3 separate regions of the Homo sapiens genome follow, and all the other regions are reported to be linked to region 1. The links are microRNA targets in miRTarBase. Many come from high-throughput screens and were not tested one by one. Region 1 holds a microRNA gene; each other region holds the end of a gene's coding sequence.

Region 1 (10,345 bases):
TTTTACTCTTTCATTGTTTATTTCAAAAGATAAATATATGTTTTTATATTTATATTTCTCCCTTCTTAAACAAAAGGGAACATGCTTGGCTTTCCCTGCCCCTGAACAATACTTCATGAAGATCAACTCCTAGAAGTTCACAGGCATCTTCCTTGTTTCTTTTTATAGTTACAGAGCTCTCCATTGTTTTGGGTTGAATGTTTAGTCAATCCATTCCTATGGACATTTGGTTCCAGTCTTTCGCTATTGCAAATACAGTTGCAATGAATACTGTTGTATATATGTCTTTTTCATAGTTTGTCAATGTATCTTTTGCATAGATTTGTGGACGTGAGCTTGCTGGTCAGAGAACAAATGCATATGTAATTTTGCTCCATATTGCTAAATCCCCCTTCTTAGGGATTGCACTCTTTTGCATTTTGTAGGTGGGGCTTCTCCCATGGAAGTCTCTGCGTCAGGGTGACCCGGAGGGCTGCTGTCCATTATCCTGGGCCCCTAAAGGCTAGAACACAGAATTCTTTCCTCTGGAACATTCAGTTTCTTGAAAAAGAGGTTGTGTGATTGTTCGTCTGGAGGGAATATATATTGCTCCCAGGTGTTGGTGTTTCCACAGGGGCATGTGAAGTGGGTGGATTTGAACGTTGGTGGTGAGTCCACTTGTTCCATATGGACATCTTCCATAATTTTCTATTTCAGCTCGCATTTCACTCCCACCAAGCATTTCTGAATCCCAAGTCTCTCTAAGTTTGTGCGAGACTTGCTGACATCCTTCCCTGGTGTTACGCTGAGCACCTTACTCTTGGCTGGGACTTCTTCAGCCCACCCAGTAGCTACTCTTCTCCAGGTGCTCCTCATCTTGCAGAGCTTTGCTGAAATCTCTTGTGTGTGATCTGCCTGCTATTCCTTCTACCATTGAAGGTTTATGCCTTTTAAATTAATTTAGTAGCATTTTATGAGTTTGAGATTGGGGAGAAGATAAATTTGTGGTGTTATTCCAACATTTTGATCCAGATGAGCACCAAAAATGTGTAGAAGGAGGCACTGAAGCAGCTAGAGTATGAGGTTAGAAAAGGAAAGGGCTTTCTAATAAGGGCTGCTCTGGAACATTTATTTGGCCCTACTTCATGGCTTCTGAGAAACACAAGGGAAGGATCTGAATTATTTTGAAGTTGCTTTTTCTTTTCTTTTCTTTTTTTCTGTTTTTTCTTTTCTTTTCCTTCCCTTGCTTTTCTTCTTCTTTTTGCCCAGGCTGGAGTGCAGTGGCACGATCTCGGCTCACTGCAACCTCTGCCTCTCAGGTTCAAGCGAATCTCCTGCCTCAGCCTCCCCAGTAGCTGGGACTTATAGGCGTGCGCCACCACTCCCAGCTAATTTTTGTATTTTTGGTAGAGCTGGGGTTTCCCTGTCTTGGCCAGGCTGGTCTCGAACTCTGGGCCTCCAGTGATCTGCCTGCCTTGGCCTCCCAAAGTGCTGATATTATAGGTGTGAGCCCCTGCGCCTGGCCTGAAGTTGCCTGTGACTAAAAGTCACAACTTTTAGTTGTGAGATGCATGTTTCTCTGACTGGACCACATGGCTTCTTGATACTTAAATGATCAACAAGTTAATTTGGAAAATAGAGCAGCTACTATGCTTAAAATATGGGACATGCTAAGATATTAGATTCAGCCACCCTACTTTCTGACATATATATGAGGCTTTAATCTTATTATCAAGCAAAAAATAAAAACAAAAAACACAACCCCAAACAACAATAACAAAGCAAGACATCTGCAGAATTGTGTTATGCTCAATTTGTGGGGGCCCTTGCATATGCCCTACATTTTCTCAGATGCCTTTTTCCTTGTAAGACTAAAATATAAAATGAGTATTTGTCCTTATAAATGGTACAAGTCTCACTTGCAAAATGATCTAACTTGTATATATCCAGGGTCATAATACCTTGTATCAGACAAGGGGTTAAGACGGGAACAAGTCAACCCTGTTGTCAGGGAATGCGCGGTTTAGTGGAGGAGGTAGAGGAGGTGGACCAGCTAAGAGACAGTTACAAAATGACGTGATGCTTGCTGTTATAGCGGAGTGTTCAGATGAGTCAAGGATTTAATTATCATAGCTGACAATGTACATTTTTATACATGCTCACTTTGACAGTGCATATATTAAAACTGAAGCATTACAGAGACAATTGGCTTGGTCCCTAAACCGAGATGACTTAGAGACTCATGAGACACTTACATTTTTGTGAGATAGCCTGTTGTCGTGGAAACATGCCTCAGCCTCCCCAGTAGTTGGGATTACTGGCACGTGCGTGCCACCACACTGGATCCCAAATGCCTAGGTTTGATTCCCATTCCTACTTTTTATTTCTATTCAGGAAGTTCCTTAACCCTCTCTACGACTCAGTTTCCTCATTTGTAAAAGCATGGGGTCCAGGAGCCATGGCTCATGCCTGTGATCTTTGGGAGGCTGAGGCAGGAGAATCGCTTGAACCCGTGGGGGCAGAGGTTGATATGAGCTGAGATCACACTACTACTGCATTCCAGTCTGGGAGACAGCGAGGCTCTGTCTCAAAAAATAATAATAATAATAATAATAATAATAATAATAATAAAAGAAGAGCACCAAAGAGCTAGCCCTTTTCTCTCCATGCGAAGGCACTAAGGCTTTGTAGGGACAGAGCAAGAGGCAGCCATTTGCGAGCCAGGAGGAGATACTGAATCAGCTGACCAGATACCGAATCAGCCAGAAACTTGATCTTGGACATCTAGCCTCCAGAACTGTGAGAAAATGTATTTGTGTTGTTTAAGCTACCCAGTCTGGAGGTTTTTGGTTTTTTCTTTTTTTTTTTTTGACAGGCTCTCGCTCAATTGTTCAGGCTGGAGTGCAGTGGTGCAATCTCAGTTCACTGCAACATTTACCTCCTGGACTCCACTATCCTTCCATTTCAGCCTCCTGAGTAGCTGGGACTATAGGCGCGCACCGCTATGCCCAGCTAATTTTTTGTATTTTTCATAGAGACAGGATTTTACTATGGTGCCCAGGCTGGTCTAGAACTCCTGGGCTCAAATAATCAGCCTGCCTTGGCCTCCCAAAGCTCTGAGATTACAGGCATGAGCCACCATGCCTGACCTGCAGTCTGGAGCTTTTTTTTTATTATGAAAGTCTGAGCAGCCTGATACAATAATGTTCCAATCTCTGTTATTTTCTGTTATTATTATTATTTTTTTTGAAAAGGAGTTTCATTCTTGTGGTCCAGGCTGGAGTGCCATGGCACAATCTTGGCTCTCTGCAACCTCCGCCTCCCAGGTTGAAACAATTCTCCTGCCTCAGCCCCCTGAGTAGCTGGAATTACAGGTGCCAGCCACCACTCCTGGCTAATTTTTGTATTTTTCGTAGATATGGGGGTCTTGCCATGTTGGCCAGGCTGGTCTCGAACTCCTGACCTCAGGTGATCCACCTGCCTTGGCCTTCCAAAGTACTGAGATTACAGGCATGAGCCACTGCACCTGGCCTTTTTTTTTGTTTTTTGGATAGGAGACATCCTAATGGGAGTGAGGTGTGGGCTTAAGAAATAGAAACCATGGTGGTTCCTAACCTTATCCAGAGCAGAGAATCTAAGAATCTGGTGAAAACTCTGCGCCTTCTCCCTAGAGAAACGCCCATAAATATATCATTTCGCATAAAATTTAAGTAAGTTTCTCTAAGGCACCATAAACCTCAAATTATAAATCCTCGACCTAGCGTAACGAAGTGTTCTTAGATCAGTAAAACATACTCAGCAGTTTTTAAGAATTGCATTGGTAGGCCCGGCATGGTGGCTCCCACCTGTAATCCCAGCACTTTGGGAGGTTGAGGTGGGTGGATCACTGGAGGTCAGGAGTTTGAAACCAGCCTGGCCAACATGGCAAAATCCCGTCTCTACTAAAAATACAAAAATTAGCCGGGCGTGATGGTGTGTGCCTGTCATCTCAGCTACTCGGGAGGCTGAGGCAGGAGAATCGCTTGAACCTGGGAGGTGGAGGTTGCAGTGAGCCGAGATCACGCCACTGCACTCTAGCCTGGGTGACAGAGCGAGACTCTGTCCCAAAAAAAAAAAAAAAAAAAGAATTGCACTGGTAGTTGTCTTCTCTATTTCTTCCATATACTTATTGGGCATTTATTATCTGGCTAGTGCTGTGCTAAATACTCAATTATATTATTATATATATAATATTATACATACTTATTTACATTGCATGTTGTATTTTTATACAATAAAAACTATATTATATATAATTATTATATATTGTATTTTTCTACCTTAAAACAACCGTGTGGAATAAAGCTATTTTACCACTTTGCAGATGAAGAAACAGGCTGATGGAGGTTGGTCATCTATTCAAGGTTCCCACTGCAGTCCCTGGAGGAGCTGGGATTCTTTGAGCTTAAAGATGTTAGTGTAACTGGGGACATGTACAGACACTGTGTGAGAAGGCAGCACCCATGGCAGATGCCTGGGGCTAGTGAGCACCCTCTAATATTTTCTGGGAGGGGGCAATTATTTGCAATAGTTGACTCCGCCCAAGTTTATCAACAGATGTCCAATCGCTGACCTTCAGATGCTTTCTAGAATTCCTGGGGTTCCTAAAGCTTCCTAATGCTTTGATGACAACCTCTCTTCTAGGAGTCCAAGGGGGTAGCACTGTGTTTCAATGATGAGGTCAACAGAGAAAGACTACCCAGAACAAAATCAGAATGTCCTGTTTTATGAAGATAAATCAGACATAGAAGTGGGAAATTAAAAAATATATATATCGTGGAACTTCCTATTTTCACTTCTGCTACCATGACTACCATTCAGGGATCCATAGCACTTGAAATCAAGCAGGCATAGTATCTGTTCAATCTACTAAAAAATACTGAAAAATAAAGGAAGTGCCATAGCCTTGCTGCCAGAGCTACTCATTTTCTTTTGCTTTTTTTTTTTTTTTTTTTTTTTTGGAGACAGAGTTTTGCTCTTTTTGCCCAGGCTGGAGTGCAATGGCGCGATCTTGGCTCACCACAACCCCTGCCTCCTGGGTTAAAGTGATTCTCCTGCCTCAGCCTCCTGAGCAGTTGGGATTACAGGCATGTGCCACCATGCCAGGCTAATTTTGTATTTTTAGTAGAGACGGGATTTCTCCATGTTGGTCAGGCTGATCTCAAACTCCCAACCTCAGGTGATCCACCTGCCCCGGCCTCCCAAAGCGCTGGGATTACAGGAGTGAGCCACCGCGCCAGGCCTCTTTTGCATTTTTGTAAATGGCAGCCATTACTGAGCCATGTTATCACCTACTGGAAAGGGATATTCCTTGGCCCTGGACAGTGATAGCAGTGGCAAATCATTATGGGTTTGCAACAAGCTCAATTCTTGCCTCCTCAGAAGAAAGAATTCAACCAAAGGGCATAAGGCAGAGTGACAGACAGAGGCAAGTTTTAGAGCAGGAGTGAAAGTTTATTAAAAAGCTTTACAGCAGGAACGAAATGAAGTAAAGTACACTTGGAAGAGGGCCAAGCGGGAGACTTGAGAGAGTCAAGTGCACTGCTTGACCTTTGACTTGGGGTTTTATACAATGGCATGCTTCCGGGCTCTGCATCTCTTCTTCTTGATTCTTCCTTGGGATGGGCTGTCTGGGTGCACAGTGGCCTGCCAGCACTTGGGAGGGGCCACATGTGCAGTGTATTTAACTGGAGTTGTGTGCATGCTCACTTGAGGCATTCTCCCCTTACCAGTGTTCCTGGAGGAAGGTCATATACTGGTTAAACTCCGTCATTTTGCCCCTTAGTGTACATACTTGAGCCCACTCACCCAACTCTAGAGATCTCACTGGGAAGCTGCTGATTGCTAGTTTCAGGTGTTTCTCTCTACTAGGAGACTGCCTTTCCCTGGCACCAGCTGTGACCAATTCCTAGGTTGGTGCAAAAGTAATTGCGGTCTTTGTCATTAAAACCAATAACAAAAACCACAATTACTTTTTACTGACCTAAAGATTAATTTAGGGAGACAGTGTAACAAATGCTTTACCATCACCTGATGGTTGCCTGACATTCCTGGTGGTTGGGAGGGTTCCTCTCCTGCCCTGCTCATGGCTGGCTAGCTACCTACTGTAACAAGAGCACAGGCTGTCAAGCAGGTTTTTGGCTTCCCAGACAGGGCCCATGGATTTTGTGAATGCAGCCACTATTTATTGATGTAATCGCTCCACCCTATAGGGCTGGAGTTGTGCTTGGCCACAGAGTGCCAGATGGCCATTAGGTACCAGCTGCTTCCACCCAAGAACACTGTCACTCACAGAATGCAGCTGCACAGATACCAAGATGGAAGCCCCAACAGTTATCATGGATGTTAAGAAATCCTACCGCCACTTCAAATCACAAGACTAGCTAACATATACTGAATGCTTATCACACATCGGGTGCTGTGCTAAGCACTTCATGTGGATTATTAGTTCCTTAAATCCTTCCGACAAGCTATCATTTGACTTTCTAGGGACTCTTCTAAGAATAAAACTATCCTTGAACTACAGCACTGTTTTAGGAATTGTGGGAGTCTTCCCTTCCAACCCAACTCCTGTGTTCTCTTGGGGAATCCTTGAAGAGCTCAATGACTACTGCCCACTAAGTGCCCTCACACTACATGCTCCTTGTCAGCTTTACAGGACATGCGGATCCTGGGAGCCTTACCTCATTCTCTGTTGAAGAGAAGATACAATATAGTTTTTTGTTTATTGCCTGTGTGATGCTAGATCAGCTTGTGCCTTAAACTTGGTATTGAAGGGGTGACCTAGACAGAAACTGCCCAAAGAGTGAAATTTATTTACTAATAAGTATGAATTGTCTGCATGCAAAGGATGCATTTTATTGGAAAAATTTATCATGTCAACATATTTTTACCATATTATCTTGGCTATATTATAACAGTATAATGGAAAGTTATTGACAGGAAGGAACCTATGTTTTCAGTAAACCATCATGGACCATAGAATAAGTCTGCCACTGAAAAGGCTGTATTTATGATTATTGTAGGCAACTTGAGAAAAACCCCTGAGGGAACTTATGGCCAGGTGCAGTGGCTCACACCTGTAATCCCAGCACTTTGGGAGGATGAGGTGGTTGATTCCTTGAGCTCAGGACAAGGCAAAACTCCATCTCTACAAAAAATAGAAAAATTAGCCGGGCGAGGTGGTGTGTACTTGTAGTCCCAGCTACTCAAGAGGCTGAAGTGGGGGGATCACCTGAGCCCAGGGAGGTCAAAGCTGCAGTGAGTCATGTTTGCGCTACTGCATTCCAGCCTGGATGACAGAGCAAGACCCTTTCTCAAAAAAAGAAGTGATCTAGATTTTTTTTTAAAACATGCTGATAGTACAGAAACGTTCCTGGGGAATAATTTGACTGCAAGAGACGTTTTCAAAAAGAACTAAGATAGTTTTGATCCTATCTCAAACCTCCCCTTTAATGATTGAGGCTTTACATCAGTTATTTACAAGAAACCTGGAATGTCAGACAATACAATTTGTAATAATGGTGCAATTACAAAATTTGTGTCTGAAGGTTTTATGAGTCGTTATCAGCACAGCCTATTACTCAGTGGTCTAAGAGAATGGCCACAAAGTTGCTGCAAGTATCTCATCCCTCAGCACACAAGAACTGCCTGTGTAGAAGTACTAATCTGTCGGCATCTCTGGACTTGCTTCAGTCATTTCTGATCAGATTTAGCTTACTGTCTCTAAGACAAACAAGAGTATATTTGGGTTATTTATTTGTATCTATTCAGCTCTTTATCAGAGTGTTTTTTTTTTTTTTTTTTTTTTTTGAGACAGAGTCTCATTTTGATACCCAGGCTGGAGTGCAGTGGTGCAATCTCGGCTCACTGCACCCTCTGCCTCCTGGGTTTGAGAGATTCTCCTGCCTCAGCCTCCCGAGTAGCTGGGATTACAGGCACCCACCACCATGCCCAGCTAATTTTTGTATTTTTAGTAGAGATGGGTTTTCACCATGTTGGCTAGGCTGGTCTAGAACTCCTGACCTCAAGTAATTTGCCCATCTCAGCCTCCCAAAGTGCTGGGATTACAGGCGTAAGCTGCCGCACCTGGCCCTATTTGGCTGCTCCTGTTAGCCCTTTTGCACGGGGCTGGATTCCCTCAATTCACTTTTCCACGCAGACAGCTGGAGTAGGGACAATCAAATTATTTACTTTATAAATTATGCCATTATTACTTCTAAGAGTACTGGTGTCCATTACATCCTTTTCAAAGACTTTCACTGATCAGCTGAGATATCTGGCTTTTTAAGATCCATATTTTTTCTTTATCTTTGCCTCACTGTTTATCGATAGATATACCTGAAAATATAAAAGATTAACATGGTCCAGGGAAGCCAGTGTTTATGGAGTAACTATTTAAAGATAACTGGAGCGGACACTTGTTACTCTAGAAATTTCCCTGTATCTTCTGTTCCCATCCATATGGCTACTTTAGGAGTTGCCATCTTGGTTCAATGCCAGTCTGCCACTGGGCACAGTTGATTGGACCAAATTTAGCTTGCAAGTCAAGCTAGGCCAATCAAAGTTATTTCATGGAGAACTGGATTTGGAAAACAGAGGGTACTGTTTTTCTTTCTGGAAGCTTGATTGACAGGTGTCAAATATGCAAGCTGTTGGCAGCTTTGTGGTTTAGGGAGTACAGGGGTTGGTCCATAGCCAGAAGAAAAAGAGAAGCCAACACAACAAAGAGGGTAGAGGCTGGAGACAGAGGGTATTTTTGTTTCCTGGGGCTGCTGTAACAAATTACCACAAACTGGGTGGCTTATAATGACAGAAAATTAGGCCGGGTGCAGTGGCTCATGCCTGTAATGCCAGCACTTTGGGAGGCCGAGGCGGGCGGATCACGAGGTCAGGAGTTCAAGACTAGCCTGATCGATATGGTGAAACCCCATCTCTACTAAAAATACAAAAATTAGGCGGGTGTGGTGATGGGCACCTGTAATCTCAGCTACTCGGGAGGCTGAGGCAGGAGAATTGCTTGAACCTGGGAGGCAGAGGTTGCAGTGAGCCAAGATTGTGCCACTGCACTCCAGCCTGGGCGACAGAGCAAGACTCCGTCTCAAAAAAAAAAAAAAAAAAAAAGAAAAAAGAAATCTATGTCACAATGTCACATACCCTTATCTAAACCAATTACCAACAAAGGGTTTGGGAACCCATGATTGGCTTGGACCTATGAGGATTCAGCCCTTGGGCTGGGGCTGTGATCAACCCCTTGTGAAACACAAAGCTGAGCACAGGAGGGCAGATGCTGTTCTGAATCGAAAGAGGAAAGGAGGGTGGGTGAGAAACGCATGTTAAGTAGGCAACCAGCAGTGTCAGTGACACATGGCCGACTTATGTTTTCAAAATCCCAAATGACTCCAGGCACTTTCCACCAGATTTTTTAGCTTACCTCTAAACAGCCATCCATGTGCTGTAGGCAAATTTTGGCAGGAAGTGCCAGAAGGTAGCATCTCGCCCCTGTTCTAATCTGCTTACTGTGCCTCTGACATCAGTAGCACAAAGGGTAAAAATCAGTGCAGTCAGCTCTCCTAATGGCTGTATGACTTTGGAAGTGGCTGTTTGGAAGGTGGTTTTAAGAGACCTGTAAAAGGACAGACATGCTTCATGGTTGTGGCTCCCAGGTAACAACTCTGAAGGACTCAACACCTGGATTCCTGGCCAGAGCCCCTCAGGTGGCCTCCATGTAGGTGCCATAGCAAAGAATCCCATTTTTTTTCATCTAGGAAAAGGGAACAAAGGTGTGGTTCCGATCAGGGTGGTTGGTTTAAGTCCACAAAAATCATCTGTTAAGCAACTACTAAAGGCAAAGATGGACCAAATTGACCTGTTCTTTGTGGGCAGTCTCCATCCAGCTGCTACAGGCTCTAAATGAGCCACCATATAGTATGGCGGCTCATACTATCGGCTCAAGATAGTTGACCTTACAGGTCACCTGTGGAAAGCCATGGAACCCTGGCAGCAGGAACTATTTCTCTTTGGGACCAGGTTCTTGGAGAGAGAGACTAGGCTCAGCTTTCCTGCAACTTGCAGGGTTGAGTCAGGGTCATCTGGCCTGAGGCAGAGGCAGTCACTTGTGGGGACGGTGGGGAGTCTGTCCTAGTCCTCTCACCCCACCCTGGAGAGTTACCACCACTGAGGAAGGAGGAAGGAGATGTTTCTGTTTGTCATCTCATGACATCATCACAGCAGCAAATGATGTGGGCATGGTTGGGAGTGGTGGCTGATGCCTGTAATCCCAGCACTTTGGGAGGCTGAGGCAGGCGGATCACTTGAGGTCAGGAGT
Region 2 (10,345 bases), not on the chromosome of region 1:
GAATGGTTACTTAATTAAAGGTCAGTGGGTCCATCTTGAAAATATACTAGAAACAGATTTAATCATGTTCCCTCTCCAGACTAGATGTTAATACCTAAGCATAATTAACAACAGGATGCCAGTCAATGAGTGTACTTTTTACTTCATATCTGGGGAGTTTAGGTGCCTTCAATTTAATAGGGGCCTCGGTGCTAGTTAACAAATTGACAGTCTTGACCTGACTTCTAAAAGTGGCTGTAAAACGATGCCTAGTCAATTAAGATAAATGCCAAATTCCTCTGAGGAAACAGGCCTAAATCATTACTTTGAAATGGGCATTTCAGGTATGAGGCCAGGACTTCACAATAAGGATATAAATACTAGCTTGGGCATGAGGGAAGATGTACACCTAGCTATTGTACACACAAGATAACAGTGACTCACTTTATTCAGCATTATGCTTGGCTGGAGATTTTAAATTCCTTTTTAAATACAAGACTATTGTACCACAGGGTAAAGATTTTATTATCCTCAATAATGGGATTGAATATGCCAAGGCGATGGAAGCAGGAAATTAGATCTGCTGATCCCCATTGCCAAGACAGGAGTTATCGAAATCCACAACGGGTCACTTTGGTGAGCCTTCCAATGTTGCAGTGGCCTGGAAACACAGGGACTCGAAGTAGGGAAATGTCTGGCTCCAACTACGAGAGGTGGTAGAAGTCATGCTAGATCAGGTTCCAGGCAGCAGAATGGAGTTTAGAACATGAGCATTTACTGTACCTCTGCTATTTCAGTATTGCTGAAATACTAAACCAGGAGGCGAAGGCACTAAGCAGTTACGCAGCGGGGTTACTGATCTGGCTCTTTCCCACAGATGCCACTATCAAATAGCGCGGAGAAGCTAGCAGAGTCGCTGCTGACGTATTATATCACTGCTTGATAAGTCATGTATGAATAACCAAATTGGTCAAACAGATCCCTGAAGACAAATTGCAAGTCATAAACCTTCAACCTGAATCCTAATTTTTATCAATAACCAGGAGAGTTCATATTTATCTTATTTTTTCTGTATTTTCTTCACTGAAACTTCTTCACTCCTACTTATTTTGCTTCCCTCTTTCTAAGATTTATTGCTTCCTGCCCTGATATTTGGGGAGGGAAAACAGAGGGGGCTGTGATTTAGTTTCCTGTCAAGACTCAAATGAAATACACTGCCTCTTTATCACTAAAACCCTCTAGTTGGCAAATTTTAAATGAGGTGACAGGACATTAACTCAGAACCCTCTGCCCACTATCTTCCTCTGCACTGACCCCTAGCCAGACTTGTGGGGACGGAAAGCAAAATGATGAGTGTCCAGACATCTTCTCTTCTCTGGAGCGTTCCACCAACCAAACTGCACCAATAACTCTAAGCTATTAATGGGAAAAATCCCCAAGAGACATATGCACAAGTCTAATCAGCTTTTATTCTTTTTAGAGTCAGGGTCTTGCCCTGTTGCCCAGGCTGGAGTGCAGTGGCACAATCATGGCTCACTGCAGCCTCCAACTCCGAGGCTCAAGAGATCCACCTGCCTTAGCCTCCCAAGTAGCTGGGACTACAGATATGAGCCACTATTCCTGGCTAAGTTGTTTCATTTTCTTTCTTTTTTTTTCTTTCTTTTTTCTTTCTTTCTTTCTTTTTTTTTTTTTTTTTGAGAGATGAGGTCTCGCTACATTGCCCAGGCTGGTATCAAACTCCTGGTCTTAAGTCATCTTCCTTCCTCAGTCTCCCAAGTTGCTAGGATTACAGGCATGAGCCACCATGACTGGCTCTACTCAGCTTTCTATAGGCAAAAGTTCATCTAAGTGCTGTTTGTTTGGTGGAACACTCCAAAGAAGAGAACTTTCTTAAGCCAGAGGGAATATGAAGATCTTTGCTTCTCTAGCTGCCCTTTCGTTATCCATTAACATTTACGATTCATAAAAACATGGGTCTATCTCCGCATAGGAGAAATCATTGGCATTTACATACCCGTCACCACTAGGGTTGATTACGTTTCCTTTGACCCAGTAGTCCCTCATAATCAAGTTGATTTCCCTCTTAAGAGATTAGTTCTTTAAACTTCTGCTCTGGTCTTTTTCTGCCCTCTTAGGTCATGGATTATATGGGACTTTTGAAATGTTATCCTCCTGGAGGAAAACTAGAGAAGACCAACATGTTAAAGAGAGAACTGCAGCAGTCTATGCAGACTCCATGCTCTCCTTTTCTCTCACCACTGCCATGTACCTGGTCACCTTTGGCATAGGGGCCAGCCCTTTCACGAACATTGAGGCAGCCAGGATTTTCTGCTGCAATTCCTGTATTGCAATCTTCTTCAACTACCTCTATGTACTCTCGTTTTATGGTTCCAGCCTAGTGTTCACTGGCTACATAGAAAACAATTACCAGCATAGTATCTTCTGTAGAAAAGTCCCAAAGCCTGAGGCATTGCAGGAGAAGCCGGCATGGTACAGGTTTCTCCTGACGGCCAGATTCAGTGAGGACACAGCTGAAGGCGAGGAAGCGAACACTTACGAGAGTCACCTATTGGTATGTTTCCTCAAACGCTATTACTGTGACTGGATAACCAACACCTATGTCAAGCCTTTTGTAGTTCTCTTTTACCTTATTTATATTTCCTTTGCCTTAATGGGCTATCTGCAGGTCAGTGAAGGGTCAGACCTTAGTAACATTGTAGCAACCGCGACACAAACCATTGAGTACACTACTGCCCAGCAAAAGTACTTCAGCAACTACAGTCCTGTGATTGGGTTTTACATATATGAGTCTATAGAATACTGGAACACTAGTGTCCAAGAAGATGTTCTAGAATACACCAAGGGGTTTGTGCGGATATCCTGGTTTGAGAGCTATTTAAATTACCTTCGGAAACTCAATGTATCCACTGGCTTGCCTAAGAAAAATTTCACAGACATGTTGAGGAATTCCTTTCTGAAAGCCCCTCAATTTTCACATTTTCAAGAGGACATCATCTTCTCTAAAAAATACAATGATGAGGTCGATGTAGTGGCCTCCAGAATGTTTTTGGTGGCCAAGACCATGGAAACAAACAGAGAAGAACTCTATGATCTCTTGGAAACCCTGAGGAGACTTTCTGTCACCTCCAAGGTGAAGTTCATCGTCTTCAATCCGTCCTTTGTATACATGGATCGATATGCCTCCTCTCTGGGAGCCCCCCTGCACAACTCCTGCATCAGTGCTTTGTTCCTGCTCTTCTTCTCGGCATTCCTGGTGGCAGATTCACTGATTAACGTCTGGATCACTCTCACAGTTGTGTCCGTGGAGTTTGGAGTGATAGGTTTCATGACATTATGGAAAGTAGAACTGGACTGCATTTCTGTGCTATGCTTAATTTATGGAATTAATTACACAATTGACAATTGTGCTCCAATGTTATCCACATTTGTTCTGGGCAAGGATTTCACAAGAACTAAATGGGTAAAAAATGCCCTGGAAGTGCATGGGGTAGCTATTTTACAGAGTTACCTCTGCTATATTGTTGGTCTGATTCCTCTTGCAGCTGTGCCTTCAAATCTGACCTGTACACTGTTCAGGTGCTTGTTTTTAATAGCATTTGTCACCTTCTTTCACTGCTTTGCCATTTTACCTGTGATACTGACTTTCCTGCCACCCTCTAAGAAAAAAAGGAAAGAGAAGAAAAATCCTGAGAACCGGGAGGAAATTGAGTGTGTAGAAATGGTAGATATCGATAGTACCCGTGTGGTTGACCAAATTACAACAGTGTGATAATGTCTGCTTGGCATATTTTCACCTTAGGTCTTATCAAGACCAAAGAGATTATGTTAATGAAACAATTAAATTCAAAGTTCTTCCCTTTTTTAAAGATAGGAAACAGGCATTGCCAAAAAAAAAAAAAAAAAAAAAAGGAAAGGACAGTGGGGAGAAATGGGCCTGGCATATTTTCAGTCTTTAAAACAAAGGAGTTGTTATGAGAATTCACACACACATAGACACACACACACACACACACACACACACACACACACACACACCCTGGGAGACCTATAGTCTCTTAAACTAAGATCAAGTAGAAGAAAGCTTATTAACAAGCAGGATCCTGCCTTATCCAAACTGCAGATGTTGCTGGCATTGTGACAAAACCCACTGATTGAAAGGTCAACTGCCAAGGCAGAAACACCTTTAAGCATTGTTCAAACAATAAGGCTTCCAGAACTTCTGTAGAGCAGTAGCTCCAGTCATGGTCTGTGGTTTGAGGTTTTAGCTGTCTCACCTAGCTCCCTAACACTGAAGGAGATACTTGTGAAAGTTCTGACCAGCAAAAGCAAGCCAGAGCCTTGGAAACTGATATGTGGTAGAGTGGCCATCACTCATGGACTAAAATTGATTCACCGCTAAATTTACCCAGGTGAAGCAGTTTCGTTGTCTAGAATGAAATTATCATATTCCGCCATTGGTATGCCTTTAACATTTGTATAGTTTGGTTTGCTTAAAACACCTTAAAACCAATGACAGCTCCAGCACTGCAGAATTGGTGTGATTCTACTTTGGAATAGCTTGTCACTTGTCACCAAATGGGTCTGCTTTATTAGTTACAGCTCTTGGCAGGAGGATCCAGGGACCCAAAACCACAGGGCCAAACCCAAATACCTGGCATGATGGAGCAAAAGCAGGTGTCTACTTGGACCCAGATATAGTGTCTCCATTTTAACAACAACAACAAAATAGCCAGCTGGTACAGCTGTTTGCATTGGCCCTACATGCATTTTTTGCATGGATATCCAGAAACATCTGCCCACACAAAACTGCGGGGAAAAAAAATGAACACTGAAATAGTTATTTGCTGTTGCTTCCAACTTGTAGTGCCAGTCTGCCTTTGCTGTGAAACACACCTGCTCAGAGACAGAGAGGGGAAGAAGATCTTTGGTAAGTCTAAGTCCTGACGCTGAGAAGCTTTGTAAAAGTGCAGGGAGATAAAGGGCCAAAAGGGAGATAGATGGAAAACACTGGAAAAAGTATTCACTGATACAAATCTATCAATGATGGCAGTCCAATTCTCTTGCTAAAGTGGCTGCACCTCACCTTGCTGGTCCCCCCCACACCTTTTTTGATGTCCTTCTGCGTCATCATAGCAAGGCCCTTCTGTAAATTAACAAGCCTAGATATTTATACTCTTGACTTCCAGTATCTACAGAAGAATGGTTCATAGATCTAAACAGAAATGGTTTAGATCTAAAAAGGCTGTATACGTTGCCCAGGCCCCTGCATTTCTTTAAATTTATAAAAATGAAGCTAAAACCTGGTTACATTTGAAGCAAATATCTACAGTATTTTTCCCTTTTAGAGATGTAGCTTCCTTAGACATCTGTAGTGGTAAGCATTTCCCAAAAGCATCTTACCTTTCTGAACCTTAGCAGACATACTGTGCAGCTTACCTATCTTCTGCAGAGGAGGAAACTGAGACCTAGGAGAATAAAGTGACTCACTCAGGTCACACCACTAAAGGGTTTTCATCATTTCAGCATACCTAAGACAGGGCAGTCCAATTTTCAGTATTCTCATAAGATGGCTATTACTCCTCTCAAAATGCATTTCCAAAGTAGGAACATAGGACTTCGTTGGCCACAGGGCAGACATTTTTTTAGTGTCTGGAATTAAAATGTTTGAGGTTTAGGTTTGCCATTGTCTTTCCAAAAGGCCAAATAATTCAGATGTAACCACACCAAGTGCAAACCTGTGCTTTCTATTTCACGTACTGTTGTCCATACAGTTCTAAATACATGTGCAGGGGATTGTAGCTAATGCATTACACAGTCGTTCAGTCTTCTCTGCAGACACACTAAGTGATCATACCAACGTGTTATACACTCAACTAGAAGATAATAAGCTTTAATCTGAGGGCAAGTACAGTCCTGACAAAAGGGCAAGTTTGCATAATAGATCTTCGATCAATTCTCTCTCCAAGGGGCCCGCAACTAGGCTATTATTCATAAAACACAACTGAAGAGGGGATTGGTTTTACTGTTAAATCATGTGTTGCTAAATCATTTTCTGAACAGTGTGTTCTAAATCAGTCATTGATTTAGTGTCAGCCACGTGGAGCACCTCGGCTTAAAGCAGCTCCACAAAACCTGACACAACACACACACCAATTAAATGGATTTTGTTGAGAATTTAATCATTCAATTTGGTCAACCAGAATGACTTCCTGTGGAACTCTGTTTTATGACAGATAATAGTTTTCCAACTTGATTGAGTCTCTGTATACCCTGGGATATTGTATTTTTTAATGAAGGGCATTTTCAAACTTGTCAACTTCTCTTTTCAGCACTTGAAATGAAGGCTTATGGAATTCTGACTGTGAAATGAATTTTTCTATTGGGAGATTATGCATGCCAAGATTTATTATTTATTGTTAGATAATTATTATTTATTTGTTAATACTGATTATTGATTATTGCTCTGCTGCATTGGTTTAGCCCCGCTATGGAGAAGACACTTTAGAAGTAACTCAGAATCACATCCCCATAAAATCTAAGTCTTTACTTCATCAAGTTTTACTTTTTGAATTGCTATAAAGACGGAAAAATTGATCCCTGCAAACACTTGAAGAAGCTGTGTTTTTTTTCTTTCAATTAATTCCAACCAAGACATTAACGTCCACTTTACCAAAGAAACTTACTTGGTTGGTTTTTAGTTGGTGTTTGTTGTTTGTTTACCAAAGAAAATATTCGATTCATCAAAAATATTGCTCCTGGTCAACTAAAAAACTGTGATACTGGGACTTTTTTGGCCATTCATAAGGAAAATTTTTAAAAGTCAAGGTAAGGGTGATATTCTCTCATTTAGTGGAAGAAGAAGATGTCAATTCACAGGGAATGTGGTGTTCGCAAGAAAGAAAATGATACTTGAAATAGGGCATTATTGTTTAGCCTACAGCAACATTTCAACAAGCAGCATCAGGGCTCCTCAGGTTAAAAGAAGTACAGTTTGTTTCAGAGAAAAAGGAAGACAAACCCTCGTGAAATGTTTCTCCATTGTTCCAGCTCATAAGTTTTACTTTGTTTTGGGTTTTGGAGTTTTTAGTTTCTTTGATGTTTGTTTTGCTTTAATTTGGTTTGTGGTTTGTGTTTGCTTGTGTTTGCTTCTGCCTTTCCTACCTTCTGCCTTTTACTCCCTCAGTTTTCAGTCAGAAGTGTGATAATCAGATGCCATCCTCCATGGCCACGCTTATGTATGCAATATACCGCTCCAAATGAGGACCTTGGTAACCCTTGACCCTTTAATTCTAACTAACCATCACCCAATCGTAAGTGGCATTATGGGACCATGATACCACTTTTCTCCAGTGTCAATGACAGAGCTCAGCTGTGTCCATCACAAGAAAAGGTGGAATGGGCAGCTGTCTTGGGGGTGTGGCAAGAGGCAGAACCTCTTGGACACAAATGTTATCTTCCTCATAATGGCTTTATTCTTTTGGATCCTATTAAAGTACCCCTGTAGCTTATAGTAGTGTTTGACCTCTGTGACTCTGTTTTCTCATCTGTAAAATGGGGATAATATCAGTAAATGTCTTTAAATTCAGCAAATACTTATCGAGTGCCAAATATCGCCCAGATACTGTTCGAGAGGCTGGGGACACAACAGTCAACAAATCAGATTTTTTAAAATCTGCTCTTGTAGAGTCTACCTTTGAGTGACATTGCAGGTATATTGTGGGGATTGAATGAGATGAGAGATGACATTTGGAAAGCACTCTTGGAAAGGCCTGGCAAAGAAAAGAGACTCAAGACATTATTTGTAATTCAGCAATCTCGCACAGTAGCATTAGGGCTCGGGATGTAAAGCTACTGAGAAGTAGATTTGAGCCTGAGAATTAGGGCTACAAATACAATGAGTTGCCACAGAAGGTAGTTAATTACCAGTCATTTTAGGACATCAAAATGAAGCTGATCACCACATAGTGGGGCCACTGTAAAGGGGCTGCAAGTCCTGGATGTTGGCATCATACTATGATCTTTGAAAAAAACAGATACAGGCACTTGCTTTTGGGGATGGGGAAGGGACACCACTGATTACTGAATAACTGTGGCTGGCTTGTCTGAGGGAATGTAAACATTCCCTTGAGGTAATTTGCTTTTAATTTTGTGTAAAAAGCACCAGGTATTTAGAGACATAAAGTTCCCGTTTTTTAAAAGAATAGTAAATCTGCAATACAAAGAAAAATATTAAGTTAGTGGATTCGCTGGCAAAGAACTAAGAATGGCTGCAGCCAACACACTGCAGAGTTCCTCCCTGTGGTGGTTACAACTGTTATTTCTGTTTCATGCCAGTCCAGGAGAAAGCAAAGAGGAAAGTGGATGAGCTATAATCCGTTCACCTGAATAGGCAGTGCCAGGATGTCCCCCCCAGCTTGCCTCTCACCCGCCCCGCTGCTGCCCAGCTGATTTGTTTGAAGTCCTCTTTGATATCTATGAGAGCACCGTGGAAGGAAGAAGAAGGGAGGCGACCGGAGAGCTATGGCCTCTGTGCAGATTTTTGAGTTAGATTAAAATTAGTACCACCTGATTAGGAGCCTACCTGGTGAGGAAAAAAGCCTTCTTTTCAAAGTACAAAAAAAAGCGATGTGTACCAAGGAGAAAACCAGCAGAGAAAGCTTGGTGGAAGAAGTGATGTTCTTGTGGAATGTGCCAGCAGCTTCTCCTTCCAGAATGCTGACACCAGATGAATCTTTGGTTAGAATTAAGCCTACCCCTTTGTTTTTCACATGAGAAAACTGAACCCTCGAGTAATGAAATTATATTCACAGAGCTAATTAGAAACAGGAGACTATAATTGAAATCTAGTTTTTAGCCTCAATTCTTTCTCCATTTTGCCACTTTACTGCCAAATTCTATTCATCTAAATTATTGGGGTCTTAACCTGGGGGCCAAATGAGTTCATGGGAGGGGTCTCTGAGTTTCCTACAATTAAGTTACATGCAAAAATGTGTGTATATGTTCAACATGTGCATTTTCCTAAACTGAGGGCTCAGATTCCAAAAGAGGTCTATGACCGAAAAAGGGTGAAGAACCACTGTCCTAAATTAATACAGACCTCATTGGGAGTGTGATCCTGGTGTCCTCATTTTGGCTAATGAGCAATCAAGAACTTTTGAACTATCTTTTCTCTAAGGATCCAAAAATGCTTCAAAATATTGGTTTCTTCATCCCAAGCCAAGTGCCTACTTCTATTCATTTATTCTTCATTCATTCTTTCATTCATTCATTTCTTTATTCTGCAAATGTATTTTCAGTGCCAATTCATGTTCTAGCAGCAGCTAAATATGCCCTCCACAGCAGGACCAGGAAAGGAGCCCTCTGTACTGTGCTCTTGTTGGCAAGAGGAACACCAGGTTGCTACCACATTCTCACTGTTGCAACAAATTATATATAGCCTCAAATTTTCAGTAACCATCCCACACACACATACACACATAAAGGCAGCAGCCAACAAAGCCAACATATAGAAGTGTGCCCTGTCAAAGAACCAGGAAGAGCAGCCTATTTCCAGGTTATATACAGTGATATGCTGTTTACAACTGCATACCACATCCTTAGAAGGCCTGCTCCCAAATGAGCCCTACTCTGAGATGTCTACACCAGGCATGCTTTCACACACGTGCAGTACCCTACTCTCAAAACAAGTATGGAGAGAATAAGTCTCATTCATCTCGTTAATATTTTTAGTGGGCAAAGAAGCAACCGTGGCCATGGACAGATGGGTGCATTTAAGGACAGGTGTGGCCGGGCACAGTGGCTCAAGCCTGTAATCCCAGCACTTTGGGAGGCGGAGGCGGGCAGATCACGAGGTTAAGAGATTGAGACCATCCTGGCCAGCATGGTGAAACCCCGCCTCTACTAAAAAATACAAAAAAATTAGCTGGGCGTGGTGGCACGTGCCTGTAGTCCCAGCTACTCAGGAGGCAGGAGAATCCCTTGAACCCGGGAGGTAGAAGTTGCAGTGAGCCGAGATTTCACCACTGCCCTCCAGACTGGCAACAGAGTGAGACTTCGTCTCAAAAAAATAAAGGACAAGTGTGTTTTATACACAAATATGCAGAAGCCCAGTTCTCTTGACTCCAAGTCAGAAGCTAGATAAAATAGAGGTTGCTGGGGGAAGTTGGAAAATAAATGACTATACTGTACTTGTTGGCTCTGCTGCTGCTGATATAACTTCAGGCACAACGGAAGCCGCCTCGGTTGGCCTATGGGAAGGGCTGGGTGAATCACTGCTTGGCCTTGCATGAAGCACAAAGGACACACCAATGGCTGATCAGTGGCCCTTCCATCATCTTCTGCCCAG
Region 3 (10,345 bases), not on the chromosome of region 1:
GAAAACCCTTTTTTTATTTAAAGCATCACTCTATTGAATGGTACTAAAGGTACAAATTTGTTGGGGCTGAGATTTTTTTCTTAGTTTGATTTTTTTTTTTAAGAGCATTTACTTAGGAATGTTCTGTGTTCTAATACTACTTATTTCAGCCACCAGAGAGAACCCTATGCCAGTTTCTAAAAAGGGTGGCAAATCACTTGACCTGCAAGAAACATCTCATTCATGCTCTATGAAAGTTTTTATTTTACTAAATGAATGACATAATTTTTTAAAACTTACAAACTGAATGCGTGTTGTGTTGCCTTTCTGTCTTCACAGAGGAGGAGGTGGAGGAGGAGGAGGATGGAGAGCTGCCCAAGACAGGGATCAGATTTATAGGTATGCCAGGAGAGGACTTAGCATCTGTACAACAGTATAAAGCTTCACATAAAGATGTTTGCCTAGTAATGTTTTGGTAAATTATAAGTGGAATACCCAAAATCAGACTGTTTGAAGCTCATGAAAATATTCTAACGGAAACTAAATGTATAAAGTCTTTGTATATTTATAAAAATTAATTGGTTTTGCAATAGATTATTTAGTGATACCATTTTATACCGTGATGAGGTACAGTGATGTTAGTCACTGATAACTCATTTTTTTTGTCATTATGTTCTTGTATTACATTTTCCTTGCTTTTTAAAAGTAAGCATCTCAAATAGCACAAGAACATTCAAGCCAGCCTTTTTAACACAAAGCTAAATCCTGAAGCACTTGTGAAATTAGTTTTGGGTGTTCAAGAGGGTGCTGTTGGGATTATTTAATGGTATGGGAATTTTCTCATTTTTATTTTTAATTTTTGGAGACAGAGTGTTGCTCTGTTGCCTAGGCTGGAGTACAGTGGAGCAATTTGAGCTCACTGCAGTCTCTGCATCCCGAGTAGCTGGGATTACAAGCATGCACCACCGCACAGAGCTAATTTTTTTTTTTTAGTAGAGACAGGTTTTCACCATGTTGGTCAGGCTGGTCAAACTCCTGGCCTCAAGTGATCCTCCTGCCTTGGCCTCCCAAAGTGCTGGGATTATAGGCGTTGAGCCACCGCACCCAGCCAGGAATTTTCTTTTACAAAACTCTCTTAACATAGTTCACAAAATTTAAAAAGTAAGTAGATTAAAATATAGCAAGGATTATTTGACCTTAAAGTTATTAAGAGTGCTTATTTGACACTTGGGCCTGATAATGTGCTTCATTCTCAAGATTTAAACAGACCTTGAAGGTTCATGCAGCTTTCCTTTTTTGGGGAACTGATGAAAGGGCAGTATATATAGTCATAAATTTATATGTTTGGTCTAATTGTGATCTATTGAGACTTAGACAATCTTGACATTTGTTTATAGAAGGCGGTCACCTTCTCCTTACTATAGTCGTGGAGGATACAGATCACGTTCCAGATCTCGATCATACTCACCTCGTAAGTTTTTATCTTAATATGATTGTTTATATTGTAGTATGGCTTGCTCTGATGACAGTGTATTCCCTTTATCAGATAATGGATTGGTTTCAGGTAGTTTCATACCTAATGATTCTCCACACATCCTGAACATTTTTTGGTTCAAGAAAGTTTGTGGAAACAACCCTTAGAATCCTATTATTTTTTAAGAAGGAAAAATTGGACAGCCTCCTGAGCCAGAGTAGGCTCGGAGACTCCTGTTGTTTCTAACTGAAATAGTAAATAATGTATTTCCACCATTTACCCAGAGTAGGCTCAGAGACTCCTGTTGTTTCTAATTGAAACAGTAAATAATGTATTTCCACCATTTAGTAGCTTTTCAAGAGTCCTTAAAAATTTTTGGACAGCACAGAAACATGGATTACTTAGCCCTTTAGTTCTCAGATTGAGTTATATACTTCCCAGCAATTTCTGTTATTTAAGATTGCTATCTCATTTCTGGTGTAATACTTACATGGAAGTCTTTCTCTATTTGGGGGTGGTGGGGTTCTGGCACATAGGAATTTCTTAATGGCAGAATATTCTGAAATTCTCGGCATTAAAGTATACTTGATAATTAGTTCACTTAATATTAAAGCATGTTCATTCTTTTCTTCCCAGGTCGCTATTAAAGCATGAAGACTTTCTGAAACCTGCCCTAGAGCTGGGATATTGTTTGTGGGCAATATTTTTTATTGTCTCTTGTTTAAAAAGTGAACAGTGCCTAGTGAAGTTAGGTGACTTTTACACCTTTTACGATGACTACTTTTGGTGGAGTTGAAATGCTGTTTTCATTCTGCATTTGTGTAGTTTGGTGCTTTGTTCCAAGTTAAGTGTTTTCAGAAAAGTATGTTTTGCATGTATTTTTTTACAGTCTAAATTTTGACTGCTGAGAAGTTTCTATTGTACAAAACTTCATTTAAAAGGTTTTTCTACTGAATCCAGGGTATTCTGAAGATCGAAGCCTGTGTAAAATGCTACCAAATGGCAAAAAGCAACAATAAACAGTTTGATTTTTACTTTTCTTTCTAACATATCAATGCTTAGCAGAACTATTCAGATTGTCAGTAGTAAATTTAAAGACAAATGCCCGTTTTCCTCCAGTCCATGAAACATACCATACTTATATACCTGCAACTAAGTGTTTAAAATTATGCTCTGTAACTCTGTACTGCTAGTATTAGAACTAAAAATCTTAAAATACAGCCAGTGCTTAATGCTTATATCAATGTGGATTTGTCGGCTTTTATGTAATCTGTAATATGTATAGCAGGAAATACGAAGAGTTACACAGTGTATGCCTTAAAAGGCTGTTTCTTAAAGGTGTTACAAGGGGATAATGGTATTTCAACTAGTTATCAGCAAGTGACAATACATTCCACCACAAATACACTCTTGTTCTTCTAGCTTTTAGACTATATGAAAAAACCGGGTGCTTCAAAGTACATGATAAGGGAACACTATACCTGTCATGGATGAACTGAAGACTTTGCCTGTTCATTTTTTAAATATTATTTTCAGGTCCTTTGCTTACCAAAGGAGGCCCAATTTCACTCAAATGTTTTGAGAACTGTGTTTAAATAAACGCAAATGAAAAGAAAAATGTTGGTGCAGCTGTTCACAAAGAAGTGTTCTTGTTCTATTATAATTAGAGTTCTTCTGTAGTTTAATCGTTAGGGCAGTGTGTTCCTTGGGCTGAGGTGTATCTTTGCTATTTTGGGCTGGGTTGAGGGGGGGATGAATTTCTGTATTCCTGGAAAATTCAGAGTGCATAACTAGGTATTAGAGTGATCTCCATTTGGGGATGGAGTTACAGTAAATAACTAGACTGCGGGTACTTTAATACATGTTCTTATTATTTTGCATTTAAGTAATTTTCATGACCAATTGTAGGGATGTTGCTACAGGTGGGTTATTTTGTTGCCTTGCTAACCTTTATCGCATCTAGGTATTAGTATGTTTCAGGTACTTTGGGAAGAACTTTACATATAATCTTTAGCAATGAAATGATGTAGAGTAACTTACCTTAGTTCAAATAGCTGTTTAAGTGGCAATGCCACGATCTGAATTGAACCTAGGTGATCTTAGTCCACAGTTCTCTTGATCATGATGTCTCAAATCTGGGTACCTGGGTGATGGAAAATACCAGTAATGGAGCATAGGCAGTATTGGCAGGTCTTAATTTGTAAAACTTACTGTCCAGGGTGTTTTCAGTGTTTGCCAACTTGTGGTAAATTAATATGCTTAGAGAACTACCCTTAGGTTTGTTTCTGATAAGCATGTGGAAACAACTTAGTATATGCCTGATGGGTTATTTCAAATTGTTCTCAATGAGTTTTGAAACAAGAATTTGTAGTATTTATATATAAAGTTGAGTTTTAGGGTGTGGTCCCAGAGGGGGTTGTGTTATGGATGGATACATTAAAGGCTGAGAAACCTGGTTTTATCGTGGTAGTATATACAGGCATCCTTTCCTGAAGTAACTACATTCTCCACCATTTTCTCCCCAACCAAACCTCTCCCCATCAGTTAACTGATGGCTTGCGAGTTCACACTCCTGATAATCTCGAACATAACCCTCGGTTTCTATCCTAAAGCCTGAGTTTTAGCCCTTTAGTTGTGTAGCCATCCTTTATCCTGCTGATTGAAAGTTTCCTTTTTTAGGCTAGTTTGAGTTGTTTTCTGGCTTTTAGATTTGAAAGAATTTTAGCCATTTGACATGGCTACAAAGAGTGTTAACAGGCAAAAGACTGAGGAAAATTTGGAATTTTACCAAGTTGAGATAGACTGAGAAGTAGTGAGACAAAGTGGTAGTCTTTTGATGTGCTGTAATGCTAGTCGCCAGTTTCATGAAAGGGAGGCAGCAGTTACCCGTAGGTAACCCCTAGGTAACTGCTGCCATGGGCAGCTGAATCAGACAAAAGCCATGGGAAAGGATAAATTTGAGTCTTAAAGTTACTGCCTCAAGGCAAAGGGACTTGGAGGCTTTTATATGCCAATACAAACAATCCATTTCTTATAGCTGTAGGGCTGAGACTACTAAAACCAAATGTAAAGTTCATTTGGAAGATTGCTAAGTTAAATAGTTTTATACTAGGCTTTTGTGAAACTTCTCAGGAAATCAACAGGGTCCCAGCAAGTGGAAATAAGGCTGTGTCAAAAGATTTGTAGACCTGGGAGCAGGGGTTTCCGATCTCCTGGCCATGGATTGCCTGAGCTCCGCCGCCTGTCAGATCAGCAACAGCAGATTTTCATAGCAGGAATCCTATTGTGAAGTGCGCTTGAGAGGGATCTAGCTTGCACATTTCCTTATGGAAATCTAACTACATGTTAGAGAATGCTCAAGGTCTGCAATGTTTACATTGTTGCCCCTACATAAGGAATATATGCCTTAAGATAAAACTAATAGCTCTTAGCCCTCTTACACCATTGACTAGGATTCCAATTCTGCAAGGCCCAGGAGGAGAAATTGAGAATTAGAAGTTTCACCGAGAAGAAATAAAAAGATTTGGTTTGCATTATCAAAATTTCTGTAAATTATATGGAAATTTTGAGGATGGATTAGGCTGGATTTATTAGCAGTGGACACGCCTCCAATATTCCTTCAGCATGCCATCTCAGTGGATTTTGATTGGCTCTTGTAGGATTGGACTTAATGCTAGCTTATGCCAAATGTCATCAAAAAGCCAGAATGCTACTACAGTAATGTAAAGGATTATTGTATATAGTGTAAAGGATTATTATGTGTAATCTTTAATATATAATGTAAAGACTTAAAAGTGACAAGAATACTGGATTGGTTCTATTCCACTCACTCTGTCCCTTACTAGCAAGACAAGACCCAAAATAATCCCTTCTCCCCATGAGTAATCAGTTGATGAAGTTAAAACTATTTCAAGAGCTTTACTGGCCTGGCAAGAGGAGATGAATTGAAATGGGATCCCACGTTAGTACTAAGAGACCAGTTAATCACTGTTTTTTGGTGGGGGGGGGGGTTCGTTGGTGTGTGTGTGTGTGTGTGTGTGTGTGTGGTTTTTTGAGACAGTTTCACTCCTGTTGCCCAGGTTGGAGTACAGTGGCACGATCTCAGCTCACTGCATCCTCCACTTCCCAGGTTCAAGCGGTTCTCCTGCCTCGGCCTCCCAAGTAGCTGAGATTACAGACGTGCACCACCACGCCCGGCTAATTTTTGTATTTTTAGTAGAGACAGGGTTTGACCGTGTTGGTCAGGCTGGTCTCGAACTACTGACCTCGGGTGATTCACCCACCTCGGCCTCCCAAAGTGCTGAGGTTACAGGCGTGAGCCACCCATTCCCAGCCAAGACCAGGTAATCACTGTTAGCCCTTAGAAGGTGAAGTTGGCAGGGTTAATAAAGGAGCAAGATAAAATGTGTGTGAAGGGATCTGGCAGGAATTTCAAGCTGTAGTTAACTAGATACTAGGTTCACAGAAATAATAGTCTTTTTGCCAAAGACACCTGTAACTATTGAACTGTTGTAGAAAGATAAATACCCAAACTTACCAAAAATAACAGTTGACCAACATCATGGGTTTGAACTGTGTGGGTCTCCTTACAGGAATTTTCTGCCTCTGCCACCCCTGAGGCAGCAAGACCAGCACCCCCACCCCCTCAGCCTACTCAACATGAAGATGATGGAGATGAAGATTGTGAGCCACTTTGATGTATTAAATAGGTTTTATTTTAACGGATACACATAATATAAAAGTTTTGTGTTACCCGTTATTGGGAAGGCTTCTTACCAACGGGCTGTTAAGGCAGCTCCCAGTCAAAAGATGTGCTCAGCTGGGTATAGAGGATTACAGGAGAACAAGGACTGTAAGACCTCGAGAAGAAAAACTTGGCTCATTGTCTTCGTCTGGAGAAATAGGCATGAGTTTACAGGTATCTTCTGGACAGATCAATATCTAATCATCTTCGTGGTTAAAGGGTTGGAGCAGCAGGATAGATTGGTAACAGCAAAGGCAATGAACATATCTTCAACATGAGTATCCACTCAAGTTTAAACATTACCACAACTGAGCTCCAATGTGAAATATACTTTGATGGGAATAACTGCAATACTAAGTTTCCTTGTGAGGGGGGACAGTAATTTGTTCTCACTGAAAATAACATTCTGTGGATTTGGTTTCTAGTCATTCCTTTATGGGACCTTATATCCATACCTGTATTGTACCATGTGACTTGGCTTCTGTACCAGAGTTCACCTGGAGAAAACCATTTCTATATAGTTGATAGCAACTATACATACTGCTTTTATTGATTTTGTTTTGAGACAGGATCTCACTCTGTCCCCCAGGCTGGAGTACGGTGGTGTGATCACAGCTAAACTGTAGGCTTAAACTTGTGGGCTCAAGTGATCCTTCCATTTTAGTCTCCAAAATAGGGAACTACAGGTCCAGCTATTTTTTTTTTTTTTTTGAGACGGAATCTTGCTCTGTTACCCTGGCTGGAGTGCAGTGACATGATCTCAGCTCGCTGCAACCTGTCTCCCGGGTTCAAGTGATTCTCCTGCCTCAGCCTCCTGAGAAGCTGGGATTACAGGTGCCCGCCACCACGCTGAGCTAAATTTTGTGTTTTTAATAGAGGCAGGTTTTCGCCATGTTGGCCCGGCTGTTCTTGAACTCCTGACCTCGGGATCTGCCTGCCTCAGCCTCCCAAAGTGCTGGGATTACAGCCGTGAGCCACTGGGCCCGGCCGAAGAGATTGTTTTTAAAAATACTTAGGAATTACATGTAACTAGCTTAACCATCAAACCTGTTAAATTAGTGGAATCAAGCTCAAGTTTCTCACTAAAATTTTTGAAAAGTGTTTGTGGAAGATTTCAAAGAATTTATTTTAATTAAATGTTTTAATATTGTTACTAATAGCTTATATTTTATTACATTTTCCTCAATTATTTTATGTAAAGAAACTGCAGGGGTTTTGTTGTTTTGGGTTTTTTGTGTTTTTTGTGTTCTTTTTTTTTGAGATGGAGTCTCACTCTGTTTCCCCAGCTAGAGAGAGTGGCATGATCTCAGCTCACTGCAACCTCTGCATCCCGGATTCAAGCAATTCTCCTGCCTTAGCTTCCCAGGTAGCTGGGATTACAGGCATGAGCCACAACGCCTGGCTAATTTTGTATTTTTAGTAGAGATGGGGGTTTCTCCATGTTGGCCAGGCTGGTCTCGAACTCCTGACCTCAGCTGATGCCACCTCAGCCTCCCAAAGTGCTGGGGTTACAGTCGTGAGCCATCGGGCTCAGCCCTGCAGGAGTTTTTTACTAAGTCCATTATGGGTACCCAAATCACCACCAGTTTACCCCCAGTGTACCTCACCGCTATTGTCATTTTCTGTGTATGCCTTGATGCACAAAAGGTTGGGAAGCTCTGCCCTCCAGTGAAGCCCATCAGCTGATGAGCTTTCCCTTGCACGTCGGGCTTCCATTCACAATCTGTTTTTTTTATTTTTTATTTTTTTGAGACGGAGTCTCGCTCTGTCTCCCAGGCTGGAGTGCAATGGCGTGATCTCGGCTCACTGCAACCTGCGCCCCCCGAGTTTCTGCTATTCACCCTCAGCCTCCCAAGTAGCTGGAACTACAGGCGCCCACCACCATGCCCGGCTAATTTTTTGTATTTTTAGTAGAGACGGGTTTTCACCGTGTTAGCCAGGATGGTCTCAATCTGACCTCGCGATCCACCTGCCTCAGCCTCCCAACGTGCTGGGATTACAGGCGTGAGCCACTGCGCCCGGCCACAATCTGTTTCTTTCTTAAATATGAACAGATAATCAAGGATCACTAGGTTTTAAAATCTTCAAGAACAAAGACGGGAATCTAAACAAACAATTGGAAAAGGGAATTAGGTTAAACAATAACCAGAAAACACTAATAAAAAATATTGCTAAATTATACTTAATTAAAATTTAAAAAGCTTTGTGCTGCAAACGATAACATCAAGAAAGTGAAAATAAAGCCTTCTATAGGGTTTGATAAGAAAGAGAAGGGCATTCTCAGGGGAGAGGGGACCAGGAGTAAAAAGGTCTTTGGGGAGAACTTAGGATGTATGATTTAGAGTCTGAGGTCCACACGGCCAGGTTACACTGATACACAATGGTGTCATCATCACATGCCAGCCTGGAAGCCATGCCACCTGGATTTGAACCCAGATTCTGCCTTTTAGCACTCATGACTCCCTTCTGTCAGTGGTGCTAATTATAGTACCTGTACCTCCTTCATAGAGAATGTTGTGAAGAGTTAACATTAAGAAAAGTACTTAGAAGAGGGCCTGTTATTTAAGATAAATAAGCTTAATGAAGATGTGCTATTATTACTATCATTGTTACTACTACCTCTTCTGCTAGAGAGTCCTGGGAATGGGCCTGGGTTGACCAGAAAGGCCTTAGAATCTCAGGCTACAAAGTTTGAACCCAAAGGAACAAAAGTAAGAGAAAGCCAATTTTAGTTGAAACAGGATAAAAGTGTTTAGGACAATGAAACCAGTAGGAGTGTGTAGGCCCCCCCCTAACACGCCTCTCCATCTGGATTATGGTCCCAGCTAAGGGCTTCCTCCATCATCACACTCACCCCAAGACACTGTAGTTGCCTGTCAATTACCTGCCTCCCCAGCTGGACCATGTCTGTGTTACGGGTGCATCTAGTGTCTAGCGCAGTGTCTGGCACTAAGTGCTCCACAGATGCTCTTCTGATGAATGAAGGAATAGATGAATGGAGTAGAACGATAATTTAGAAAAGGGTCTATAGGGAGCCCAGCCCAGGGGCAGGCTCTGGCCTAGGATGAAGGCAGAGGGAGTGAGAGAAAAGTAAGAAATGCACTGGCCATCAGAGAAATGCAAATCAAAACCACAATGAGATACCATCTCACACCAGTTAGAATGGCGATCTTTAAAAAGTCAGGAAACAAAGGTGCTGAAGAGGATGTGGAGAAATAGGAACACTTTTACACTGTTGGTGGGACTGTAAACTAGTTCAACCATTGTGGAAGAGTGTGGTAATTCCTCAAGGATCTAGAATTAGAAATACCATTTGACCCCGCCATCCCATTACTGTATATACCCAAAGGATTATAAATCATGCTGCTATAAAGACACATGTACATGTATGTTTATTGTAGTACTATTCACAACAGCAAAGACTTGGAACCAACCCAAATGTCCATCAATGATAGACTGGATTAAGAAAATGTGGCACATATACACCATGGAATACTATGCAGCCATAAAAACGGATGAGTTCATGTTCTCTGTAGGGACATGCATGAAGCTAGAAACCATCATTCTCAGCAAACTATTGCAAGGACAAAAAACCACCACACGTTCTCACTCATAGGTGGGAACTGAACAATGAGAACACTTGGACACAGGAAGGGGAACATCATACACCGGGGCCTGTCATGGGGTTGGGGGAGGGTGGAGGGGTAGCATTAGGAGATATACGTAATGTAAATGAGTTAATGGATGCAGTACACCAACATGGAACATATATACATATGTAACAAACCTGCACGTTGTGCACATGTACCCTAGAACTTAAATAAATAAAAAAAAAATACACTTGTCTAGAAGACAGGAGACTTCATTATATTACTCTCTTTACAATTAATTAATGTAAGACCGTTTAAAATATGCCTAATTTTCCAGGCATTGGTTTGCTTTTCTATAAAATGGGAGGATAGAAAATAACTTCCAAATTCTTACAAATCTAAGAATCTTTGGATTTAGATATGGAAATTCATAATTATTGAGATGGAGTCTCGTTACTATGCAATATAGCAAAGTTGGAAATAAATTCTAAATTTTATTTCATTTATATTGATCAATAAATTGTTACATTTCAAAAAAATGCAAGAGGCATTTGGAAA

The links. Region 1 holds the annotated microRNA hsa-miR-548ap-5p (AAAAGUAAUUGCGGUCUUU, at 5,939-5,957, shown strand). A microRNA usually pairs through its seed, bases 2 to 8, with sites in the 3' UTR of a target mRNA and lowers its output. Matches are read on the target gene's strand: a 7mer-m8 pairs with bases 2 to 8, a 7mer-A1 pairs with bases 2 to 7 and ends in A, and an 8mer does both.
Region 2: the mRNA of PTCHD1 is a reported target of hsa-miR-548ap-5p. Seed matches in the 3' UTR shown: 7mer-m8 at 6,559-6,565 and 7mer-m8 at 7,058-7,064.
Region 3: miRTarBase lists TRA2B as a target of hsa-miR-548ap-5p. Seed matches in the 3' UTR shown: 7mer-m8 at 2,485-2,491 and 7mer-A1 at 3,304-3,310.

The regions. Positions count from the first base shown.
Region 1 is chr15:85,819,717-85,830,061 of GRCh38, forward strand. It overlaps MIR548AP (microRNA 548ap), which reads left to right and starts at 5,919; the gene lies at 5,919-6,014. It also overlaps the pseudogene RNU6-231P.
Region 2 is chrX:23,390,417-23,400,761 of GRCh38, forward strand. It overlaps PTCHD1 (patched domain containing 1), which reads left to right. Exons shown (of 3, transcript NM_173495.3): 3 at 2,115-10,345. The coding sequence ends at 3,769. Among named protein-coding and RNA genes, the nearest start is that of PTCHD1, 61 kb to the left of the region's middle.
Region 3 is chr3:185,909,470-185,919,814 of GRCh38, reverse strand. It overlaps TRA2B (transformer 2 beta homolog), which reads left to right. Exons shown (of 9, transcript NM_004593.3): 7 at 319-378; 8 at 1,377-1,450; 9 at 2,090-5,257. The coding sequence ends at 2,100. Among named protein-coding and RNA genes, the nearest start is that of TRA2B, 23 kb to the left of the region's middle.